2 separate regions of the Homo sapiens genome follow, and region 2 is linked to region 1. Evidence: fine-mapped expression QTL. Tissue or cell type: whole blood. Region 1 holds a variant in brackets; the other region holds the start of a gene. All regions are shown on one strand. Distances are between the middles of the regions.

What was found. PIP is the estimated chance that this variant, and not a neighbour inherited with it, causes the effect.
Region 2: CORO2A starts here. The variant in region 1 is fine-mapped to the expression of CORO2A in whole blood (INTERVAL, PIP above 0.99).

The regions. Positions count from the first base shown.
Region 1 is chr9:98,124,593-98,127,346 of GRCh38, forward strand. CORO2A (coronin 2A) reads right to left here. Exons shown (of 12, transcript NM_052820.4): 11 at 1,957-2,231; 12 at 1-313. The coding sequence ends at 182. Among named protein-coding and RNA genes, the nearest start is that of TRIM14, 6.7 kb to the left of the region's middle. The variant CT/C (reference allele first, on the strand shown) is at 1,442.
Region 2 is chr9:98,191,260-98,194,013 of GRCh38, forward strand. CORO2A (coronin 2A) reads right to left here and starts at 1,378. Exons shown (of 12, transcript NM_052820.4): 1 at 1,300-1,378. RefSeq lists an enhancer at 231-885 and silencers at 1,038-1,087, 1,158-1,707.

The DNA of each region.
Region 1 (2,754 bases):
GAAGGCAAACAGAAAAACGGCACCATGTCCCACTGGAATCTCTTTCAGCGATGGAGAGTTTTGTTTTCTGGTAAAAAATATAGAAATAGTGGTTGTCCTTGAGGGGACTTGTGGTTTGGTTCTAAACCTCCCCATGGAGCCGAGTGGTGTCCCTGAGGGTGAGGAGGGCAGAGGTCTCTGCTCAGAGCTGCTCTGAGCCCATCCGCAAGTTTTTGATCTCCAGTTCCAACTGTTTGGCCTGGACCTCTCGCTGGGTCAACAGCTCCCGGAGCCTTCGGATCTCCTCCTGTTGCCGGTAGAACATCTGCAGCAACTGGGGAAGAAAGATCGGAAGGCAGGATCACCATGGTGTCAGGACACCAGCTGAAAGCTAAACCACTATCCCTCTTTGACTCAGAAAGGTGGAGGCGGTCACATTAACATGGCTGAGGCCTGATGGGGCTGTCACTGCATAGATCTTTTACAAACACCTTGTTTACTTCACCCAATAAATGAAATTCAAGAAGACTGGAATGTTTCAGATGTATTTTGCTTCCATAGATCCTCCATGAAATAGAGGAAAGGATGCCTGGCTCTGAAGTCTGGGGATTGGTGTTTTCGCCACCACTGAACTGTGTGACCTTGGGCAAGTTACTTACCCACTCTGAGCTTCCATTCCTTCCTCTGGAAAATGGGGTCAGAAAACTGCCCTCTGTGCAGAATGGGTGTTAGATATTGAGTGATGCCCTAAGGGCCTCGTTATCCCACTGGAACGTTGTGACACCCCTATAAGGGTGGCAGTGCTAGTGTCCCCACCGTACCACCGTGGAAACGGAAGCTTAGAGACATTCAGTCTCTGGGTCTAAGACCCTAAATTAGTACTCAGCAGAGCCAGGATCAGAATCCATCTGTGAGATGCCAGCCTCTGTGTTCTTAGCCACTACAGACTGACTTCCAGGGCTGTTGAGAGAATTCAATCACGTGCTGTATCAAAGTGCCTACCCCAGGATCTGCCACACAGTAGGCACTAAACAAATGTGGACTTTGAAAGCACAGAAAGTCCTATAATGTCAGAACTGGAAAGACTTTGATACCCACTAGGTCAAACCCTCTCCATTTTACAGATGGTTTCCCACCATTTTTTTTTTTTTTTTTTTTTTTTTTGAGACAGAGTCTCACTCTGTTGCCCAGGCTGGAGCGCAGTGGTGTGATCCTGGCTCACTGCAGCCTCTGCCTCCTGGGTTCAAGCAATTCTCCTGCCTCAGCCTCCAGAGTAGCTGGGACTACAGGCACGCACCACCATACCCAGCTAATTTTTGTATTTTTAGTAGAGACGGGGTTTCGCCATGTTGGCCAGGCTGGTCTCAAACTTCTGGCCTCAAGAGATCCACCCGCCTTGGCCTACCAAAGTGCTGGGATTACAGGTGTGAGCCACTGCACCTGGTCACCTGGTCCCCACCAT[CT/C]TTTTTTTTTTTTTTTTTTAAGATGGAGTCTTGCTCTGTTGCCCAGGCTGGAGTGCAGTGGTGTGATCTTGGCTCACTGCAACCTCCACCTCCCAATTTCAAGCCATTCTCCTGCCTCAACCTCTCAAGTAGCTGGGACTACAGGTGTACGCCACCACACCCGGCTAATTTTTGTATTTTTAGTAGAGATGGGGTTTCACTATGTTGGCCATGCTGGTCTTGAACTCCTGACCTCATGATCTGCCCGCCTTGGCCTCCCAAAGTGCTGGGATTACAAGAGTGAGCCACTGTGCCCAGCCTCCCACCATCTTTATGTATGCCCATCATTTTGGCATAAGATGGAGCTCACTGCCTGTTTGTTGAATGAATTAACAAAATGAGTCAAGTGACTAGGCCAGGCCACACAGCTGGTTATTCTTCTCATGCCTCATTTTCTCCCTTCTTCTCAGCCTGGATCTGTTCCCCTCCACCCCAGCTGCCCCATGTGAAAGGCCCACCCCGTCCTCCTTCACACCTCATTCTCTGTCTTTGGTGGGGGGCATTCGAAAACGTCAAAGCCATTTGTCAGCCAGGTTTTCTTCTCCTCCAGCCTGTGTTCTGCTGCCCACCTTGGCATCTTCTCCTCCAACAGGGAGGAAGACCTCCAGCCATCTTCTGCAGCCAGCTTTTCTGTCTGATTCAAGAGCCGGGGTGAGGCTGGGGCCATGGAATTGAAGATAGGTCTCTCTGCAGGCAGTGGGTGGGGTCTCAGCAGCTCAGAGCCAGGCCTAAGGGACACCAGGATTGGGTCTGGAAGGGAAGCAGAGCCATGTGAGGACGGGGTGCCCACGGGAAGATGGGCATATGGGGCACCAATGACACAGGCAGGCATGCAGAGACACTCAGAGCCATGCAGACCCATGCAACATGTGTGGGAAATACAGCTACCTGTGGACAGGCCCAAACCCACAGAGCAGGGCTAACAGATACAAATACCCACGTGTGCCACCCTCAGAGTGAAGCTTGGTTTGTAGGAACAGCACGGTGCGTGCACTGAAGCAGCCCCCAAACACTTCAAACTCACATGAGACCTTGCCCTTGCTTTGTAAGGACAGTCCCACCCACACTGCACCCCACCATCTACCAAGTTCATTAGTTCTCTCACCACCTCCAGAAAGCAGGGGAGGCTGGCATCATGGCTACAGATGAGGAAACTGAGGCCCAGGGAGCAAAACCTACTTAAGGTTATCCAAAACTAGGACTCGGCCCTGGTCCGCTGCCCCCCAAGGCAGAGGCTCTTCCAGTACACCAGGAGGCCCGCTCAGCCACTGGG
Region 2 (2,754 bases), 67 kb after region 1:
CAGGAGGGGCAGGAAGCTGGGGAGACACATTCCAGTCCTGATGCACAGGTGGGTTCTGAACAAGCCCCAGGAAAGCGGAGGCCCCACAGCCTGCTCCAGGGCAGACACCTCGGCTCCCTCTTCTTGCCTTGGCTCCCTGGGATCTGATGGGAGAAACTGCTGGGCCTGGGGCTGCTGGGTCTGGAGATGAGCATATTTAAGGGACCTGACCACTGCCCCAGGGTGAGGGAGGAAGGGTCAGAGGTTGTTTGTGTGTCCAGAGCAGGACCAGCAGGAGAGGCAGTGACTGGGTAGCAGATTCCAGCTTGGTTTACAACTAGTGAGATTCCTATCACAAGGAGTGTGCAAGGGGGCAGCAAGACCTTCCAGAGGGGATCTTACAGAGGGGCTGGGCCAGATGCCATAGGTCTTCTTTACCTAGGGAGCCTGGGACCACAGTCCCTCAGACCTGTGCTCTGCCCCATCCCTTAATGCCACGCGGACACAGCACCTTGGCACTGTCACCCCTCTGAGGTCCAGGCGTGGCCGCCAGTCACCCCTTGTCACACCAGCTAGTGTGTGTCACACCTTATCACACACTAGCTCTGGGACACAGAGCTAGGCACCAGCACCTGGCCCGGGTGGGGAAGGGGAAGGAGCTATCCTATACCACTCTCTAAATCGAGGTGCCTACGTGGGGCTGGTCCAGGCAGTCGTGCCGCCAGGAGTCCAGCCACCTCCAACCTAGGGCTCCTCCAGCCCCAGACGAGTAAACCCTCTTGGCGGGCCGGCTGATGCCCCACATGCACGCCCAGGCCGGCTTGGCGGGGACCCGGGGATGCCCCCCACCCCACCGTTTCCTGTACCAGGAAGCTGAGGCCCAGCAGGTAACGCAGCCAAGAGGGGGAGGGTCCCGACAAGAGTCCCATGGAGCACCCGGGCCACAGCAGGGGCCTGTCGGGACCGGCTGGCCGCGCCCAGAGTGAGCTTCCCTCACCGCGGGCAGGAGGGGTGGGCGGTGCAGACAGTGCTCATGAGGGCAGCGAGCCGTCGGGAGCCCGGACCTCGAGGCGGCCCCTCCCAACAACCCCGCGAGAAGGGGGCCACCAATGAGCAAGCTATCCTGACGGGGAAACTGAGGCCTGGAGAGGAGCAGTGCTTTGTGCAAGGTCACGCAAAGGGGCTGAAAGCCAGGTCCCCCGCGCTCCGAGCCCCGCATCCCTCCCTCTCCGGGAGCTGCAGCCGCAGCGCGCACGTCCCGCCCGACGCCCCCATCGCGCAGACCGGGAAGGCACGGCCGGCGGCGCAGGGCCGCCCTACCTTGATGACTGCCGCGCAGGTGGCGGTGGCGGCGGCGGCGTCCAGCTCCGGCTCCGCGCTCCTCGCCGCCCGCCGACTCCCGGCGCCCAGAGCCGCCGCCGCCTCCCCCTGCAGCCCGGCGGGCGGGGCCGGAGGGCGGGGCGGGGGCCTGGCCCAAGGTCCGCCCTTTTGCCCGCCCCGCGGGTCCGCCCTGGCCACCCTTTTCCGCCCCCACGACCCCGACCGCGCTCCTGGCTCCCCGGGGCGGGTCTCGGGGCGCGCACACGTGCTGGGAACAGGCGCGCACACGCCGCAGTGATTGGGGCGGGCTGCCGGCCACCAGGCGGAGGCTGGGGACAGGCAGAGCCGCGGGCCCCACGTCGCGCCGTGCCCTCGCTGCGTGGTGTGGGATGAGGAACCTGACCTCCCGGAGCCTCAGTTTCCCCCGTTGTGAAATGGAGACAGTAACCGCGTCGGCCTCTTAAGGCTGTTTGAGCCCTGGATGTGACGATCCCGGCCGGGTACAGTGCGCGCGCCGAGCCCGGCCAGGGAAGCGCTCCTTTCCCCGAGCAGTTACAGCGGTTACCGAGGCTTCCCCGTCCGCAGGGAGGAGAGGAGCCGGGAGCGCCGCTGGGAACCGAGGAGGACGCCCTTCCTTCTCTCGGGACCAGCCGGGGGCGCTGCTGCCAGCCTCGCTGGCTGGAGAGCCCTGAGGACACTAGACAATGGGGAGGCCCTACCTTTGGGTACCACCCCCACCTAACACTACTGAGCCACGCACTCCTCTAAGCGCCTTCTGTGCATTACCTCGCTTCACTGTCACACAGGCCTATGAGGTTGATACCATTACTCACCTATTTAACACAAAAGAGCTGAGGCACAGAGATATTAAGTACCTAGGTTAAGATCACCCGGCTAGTCATGCAACCCCAGGCAGTATGGCTCCCACGGCTACTAAGCTAACAGCCACTCCACTCCACACCACGTCTGTGAAGAGCTCTTGGTTTTGTTCAGTAGAGACGGGTTATCTTGAGGGCCTTGAACTGCTCCGTGGCACATAGTAACCACTCAATATATAGTTGTGGAGTGGATAACAGAGTACACTGTTACTACTTTACATATCTGTATCGTTTCTTCTAAGCTTCTAATAATAGTGGCTTTATTTAGCCACTATTATTACCTCCATTTTACAGATAAGAAAACTGAGGCTTGGAGTGGCAAGGTACTTAGGGAGCTCTTGATTCTCTCCTTAGAATGTGACTCAGCTTCCATAGTCCACTGTACCACCCCCCTGCCCAGAGCTGGACGGGCTCCCTGCCTACCACCCAAAGCCCAGTGTGCACTATGGTCCTGAAAACCCCATCCTACAGCTCTGATTCAGACCTTCTGGAGCTGGATTGCCCAGCAGGTAGACTGAACGCATGCTTCTGGTGTTAGCGTGCAAGAGTTGGGTATCAAGCATATGGATGGCTGGGC